Regions from separate parts of the Homo sapiens genome. Here region 1 is linked to region 2. The links come from fine-mapping of genetic effects on gene expression. A gene starts in region 2. The other region holds a variant in brackets. All regions are shown on one strand. Distances are from middle to middle.

What was found. PIP is the estimated chance that this variant, and not a neighbour inherited with it, causes the effect. A credible set is the group of variants that fine-mapping cannot tell apart.
Region 1: its variant is the best candidate, but not a certain one, in a credible set for the expression of PARVG in whole blood (TOPMed, PIP 0.55).

The regions. Positions count from the first base shown.
Region 1 is chr22:44,212,272-44,215,303 of GRCh38, forward strand. No RefSeq gene overlaps it. Among named protein-coding and RNA genes, the nearest start is that of PARVG, 33 kb to the left of the region's middle. The variant TATC/T (reference allele first, on the strand shown) is at 1,636.
Region 2 is chr22:44,179,232-44,181,966 of GRCh38, forward strand. It overlaps PARVG (parvin gamma), which reads left to right and starts at 1,694. Exons shown (of 14, transcript NM_022141.7): 1 at 1,694-1,954; 2 at 2,511-2,686. RefSeq lists silencers at 955-1,004, 2,175-2,304 and enhancers at 1,681-2,411, 2,412-2,735.

The DNA of each region.
Region 1 (3,032 bases), 33 kb after region 2:
GCCGAAGTTGGAAGCAGGATAATTATAGCAAGCTGAACAGGAAGGCGTCCAGGGCCAGAGAAGGAGCTGGCAGCTTGGGCTGGGTGTGCAAACAGCTTCGAAGCGAAGGGAAATGCCTCGAAGGCTGGGGTGCCTCGGAGTTGAGCTGCTTCCCAAAATAATCCAGAGGGCAGCTGTCTTGGAGTCTGAAACTGGGTCTGGCCGCCTGAGCTGCAGGAAGCCCCAGGACTCACACCAGCTCCACTCTGGGAACAGATGGAACTAAGATTTTTTTTTTTCTTTTTACCAAAGTCAGCTGGTAAGCGAACAGCTTGTCTAGAGAAAAGTGTGTTCCTGCCCCCATATCTTCTGGCAATGGATCAAAGCTGCCAGTGCCATCCCAACCCCCATCCCTGCCCCACCAGCCTTCTTTCCTTGTAAGACTTGGGCAGTGGTGAGCAGAGGGGCATCATGGACCTAGAGACACATGGGATCCCCACCCCCTGGGGGTGTAGCCCAGGGAGTGTCCTGGGCCCCTAGGTCAATGGGGGACTGGGCTGAGGGGCCTGGCTGGTAAGAAAGTAGATGATGAAGATGTTCCAGAAATGATTCTTCCAAGAAGAGTCAGCCAATGGACCTGGGCTGGCCAACAATTGCATGAATTCATTTATTTATCCACAAGCATTTCATATGGGTTGGTTTATTATTACCTAGAAAGGTGATGCATTAATACCTAGGTGGGTTTTTACAAAGGTACAAAATCATAGTGCACACACCATTCATAAGAGAACTTCTCCACCTACTGTGTGCAGGCCCAGGGCACAGAGCTGGGTATAAAGAGAGTGCTCAGACCGAGGCTCTATCCCAGAGGAGGTGTAGCCCAGGGTGGAAGGGGCTGGGTAGTGCAGTGGTTAGAGTGTGATGCTTGAGTCAGACCCTGGGGTGTGAATCCTGGGCAAATCCTCACCTCACTCTGTGACCCCAGGCAAATCACTTACCTCCCTAAGCCTCAGTTTCCTTCTATGTCAAATGGAGGCAATAAGGAATCTATTCTTCACAGGGCTATTTAAAAAGTTGAGTATCTGGAGAGCTTGAAGCTTGCTGGACACATAACATTCAATAAATGTCAGATGACATCATGGGTGTCATCATCACCATCACCACCACTGTCACCATCATCACTATCACATCATCATCACCTCCATCATTATCACCATCATCACCACCACTGTCACCATCATCACCATCACGGCATCATCATCACCATTATCATCCTCATCACCTCCACTGTCACCATCATCACCATCACATCATCATCACCTCCATCATTATCACCATCATCACCTCCACTGTCACCATCATCACCATCACATCATCATCATCACCATCATCCTCATCGTCACCTCCACTGTCACCATCATCACCATGACATCATCACCACCATCATCATCAACATCACCATCATCACCACCACTGTCACCATCATCACCATCACATCATCATCACCTCCATCATCATCATCATCACCTCCACATCATCAACATCACCATCATCACCACCACTGTCACCATCATCATCATCAGATCGTCATCACCATCATTATGACCATCATCACCACCATCACACCACTGTCACCATCATCACCATCACTGTTAC[TATC/T]ATCACCATCACATCATCATCACTATCATCACCATCATCACTACCATCATCATTGTCACCATCACCATCATTGTCACCATCATCACCACTGCTGTCACTATCATCACCATCACATCATCATCATCATCATCATTATCATCATCATCACTACAGGCACAAAAACAGTGCTGGAAGTCCCTCCTCCATAGGTCCTAGTGAGGATGCAGTGACATGAGGTACGTGAGGTTAGAGGCCTGGCACGCCTTTGGCACTCAGAGTTAGGCACTAAAAGGCCAGCTCATCAGGTGAGTCCTACCTGGATTTTGTGTCCCTGCTTCTAGGCTTTGCTTGTTGGAGACCCACAGCAGCACCTAGCCCTGGGTAAATACTTGTGGACTGACCCACTAACGTGACCTCTTAACTCTCCTGGGTGAGTCAGATCCAGACCTGCTGCTTCAACTTGCAGCCCACCCAGCTGGCCACCCCAGCATCCCAGGATGCCAGCATTCAAGCGGGGCTTAGCTCTGACTTGAACCCATCTTCTTGGCCCCTGTGCTGGGCCAGTAGGCTCACCAGCTCAGCTGAAAACACAGGGACAAATGGAGGACCTCTGGCTCCATGATCCCTCTCCTTTACCCGGTTGTCTGGAGTAAGAGGCAGGAGTGTGATATGGGAAGTCCTGGCTCCAGTCTTACTGGGCCCCTTAGCAGCTGTGTAGTCTTGGACAGGTCACTACCCCTTTTTGAACCTGAGTTTCCTCATCTGTAAAATGGAATGATCCTGCCTGCTTAGTTCAACCCCCACGATGGTAATCCATCTTAAGGATGAACTGCAATAATGGTGGGCAGGGTTTTGAAAAGTCCTATCAGCTAAACAATGGCCAAGGCTAGCACTGACTGGGATCTCCACCTTTCTTCAGCAGCCATGGCCCAGATGGCCTGGCCACCTACCAAGCCCATCTGCTCTTCCTGCTGGGCACGCAGCTGGACTGCATGCCCCACCTTCTTTGCAACCCAACGTGGTCAATAATAAAATGTGAATCAAGTAAAACACAACATTGCTGAGCCTGGTCCTCAAACCCAGTCCCCTGCATGACCTGATACTCCTGTACTCCCCGATGCTCTGGTGATGCTGACTAGCCTGGTGAGATTGCAAGCCGTGTGCTGAGATGCTGGAGCCACAGACGGAGTCACCCTGGGAGGAGAGCTGCCTGCCAGTCAGGAACACTCGTTTTGAACAGTATATGAGCAAGAAATATTTGAACTCCTACTCATTTGGTGTGTGTTACAGTAGCGGTGGAACAAACACTATAGCACTTGACTAAAACAGCTGCATCAACTCTATTTAATCATTCATTTTATTTCAATTAGATATTTTTTTTTCATTTCTAGAAGTTTTATTTGCTTCTTTTTCAA
Region 2 (2,735 bases):
GTCCCTCTCTTCCCCTAAACAATGCTCTACACACAAGAGGCTTTGTGAGTTGTGGATTTAGTCTGTTGTAACTCCACACCATACAGGATTAGATTTCGCATCTGATTCTTACATCAGCCCTGCAGCCCCAAGAGATGAGAGATAGCTTTGAGGGCTATCAGAGAACTCCCTGTATTCTGCACATACCTTGAGCTGAGAATGTAAAGCCCTGGGACTGTCCTTTTCTTGCTTTAAACTCTTTGGTGTGATGATAACAAGCTCACCCCACAGTCCTTAGATAACCTGTGCTCGTATTGCGTATGGAAGCCACAACTCTGCCAAAGCCACAATTTAATAGGTACTTCGTTCTGAGTGATGACAGGTAATTATTTTGCCATCACAGGCTACGATCTATTAGAACTCCATTCTCTAACAGTTACTAGGTCCCCACTGCCTTTAAATCAACCAGAACAAGTAACCAATCCCAGTTCCCATCCTGGAGGTCGTGTTGCCTGCAATTGTTTCTGGTAACAAATCCGAAGTTAATTGGGATTCAGTTGCCGATGATTAGAGTCTCTTCAGTTGTTTGGAGGAGAAAGGAATCTAACATAGGAAGCTGTGTGATTCTCAAGCTGTTGGAAGGCTGGAGGCAGCGCCTCCAGCAAGGACTCTTGGAAGAATACTGCAGAGCTGGCTCCTGAAGGAAGCTGCCGAGTCAGGCTGGCCCTAGAAGCATGCTTTCTGGGTTGAATGCTTTAGGTTCACCTCTGCAGATCCACTCCCCACCATTTTCTCTCCTCACATCTATGGGCCGCAGCAGGGGACTTCTTTTCTCTGGCTTCTGGCTGGATGTGGGCAGGGGAGGCCCTGGCAGGAGGGAGGAGAGTGAGGCTTGGTCATTGATTCCTCCAGCTGTGCCCTTCTGCTGGTTCACCATGAGCTGGCTGTGTCCCTCTACCAAAGGCCACAGCTCCTATCCCGAGGCCCCTCTTAGAGCTTCAGTGATTCTGTTCCTGGGCTCTGCCACCCACTCCCTCCTTCACCCTCTAGGTTTTGAAGAAGTAACAGCTCCCCATGTTGCTAGCCTGGGGTGTAGCACTGTCTCTTCTGGGTTCCTTTAACCCTGCCCCAGCTGTCCCTTTATTAAACAGTCTTCAGTTAGCACATGGGAATATACCGTCTCTTTGCTGCTGGGACTGTGACTGCTGCTACATCTATGTGGCTGTGATCCAGAGTCAGAAGCCACCACCAGAACCACTGTGTCCAGAGCTGGGCTGAGCCTGCTACACACGCCCCAGCAAAATAGGTCCTGCACGGTGGCTTCTCTCCCCACCTGTTACAAGCCCCAGTCTAGCACGGGCACTTCAGAATGGCAGGGACTGACTCATGTGCCTCAGTGTCTTCCTCTGTAATATGGGGGTGATGATTGTACCTACCTCACAAGGAAGTTTCCAGTAAAATGAAAGCCCTTAAAATTATGTTTGTTTCATCACCAATGACTCCATAAATATTAGCAACAATACCAGTACTAAGTTTTGTCATTTTTTATTAACTTCTTGTAAACGACCCTACTTTCCTGCTCTCACACACTCCTTACACCTGCATCCCACCTGATTTAGCCACTTTCTGCCTAACCTGTCAGAAAGGGTAGATAGCTTCCCAGTCACCTGTTGCTAGGGAAACTCACCATTTCAGCCCGGATGGTGAAGATTCCAGCTTGAGAGACCAGCTCGGGTCTGAAGTGTTTCTCTATCTACTGTGCTGAGATCTCTCCTTCTCGAACCCTGCTATGCCTTTGCATACGCTGTTTTCTCCACCTGCCACGTTCTCACCCCTTCTTCTTCCACTGCAAACTCCTATGCAGCCGTCAAGGCCCCATTCTCCTCTGGAAAGCCTTCCCGATCCCCTTGGCAACAACCACCACCAATATTTATTCACTGAGCCCACTTTGTGCCAAGCATTGTTCTAGACACGGGTATGTAACCGCGATTGAGAGAGACAGACCACGCACAGCCTGGATTTTATTTTAAGAGCTATTGGGTGCCGTTGGTGGGTTTGAGTGAGTGGGGTCAGGAAGTGACTCACTCCTCCGAGGGCTTGTGGGAGCCTCAGCTCAGGGGCGGGCAGGGGGCGTGGGGAAGTCTGCAGCCGAGAGTCCAGGTAGGAGTCTCCTGCGTGGTCCCGGGAGAGGAAGGGGCCTGGCCCGGGGCGGGGTGTGGAGGTGGGAGGACGGCGGTGCGGGATGGAGGGTGGAGGCCAGGCTGACAGGGTGCTGGTGGTGGGTTGCGGGGGTCGACCCCAGGCTCTGGCCTATGTAGCTGCCATTTTGGAGGTGAACAGCCTGCGGGGAAACTGGCATGGTTTGGGGAAGGCGGGGAGAGGGGGAGAAATGAAAGCATTGAGTTTAAGTGGCCTGCAGAACCCCGGGGGCCCAGGCGGCACGGCGGGCGCTGGGGCTCCGGGCAGAGCTTTCTGGAGGTTTGTGGCAGCTTCACTTTCACGGCATCCACCCCCCTCGGGCCCTGCCGCAGAGAGGAGGAAGCTCCTGCCGGCTGAGCGGGCCTGGAGGAAGTGAGCAGCGGGGCTCCTGCCTCCCGGCCTGGTCCCCGAAGACCCCAGAAGAACCCGGAACTTGCTTCCATTCGGAATCCAGGGACCACCCTTTGCACTCAGTAGGCCTTTGTTTTCCTGCGTGGAAAGCGGTTGGGTGAGTTCTGGCATCGGGGCCACCATACTTGAGTGTTGGGGGTCACGGA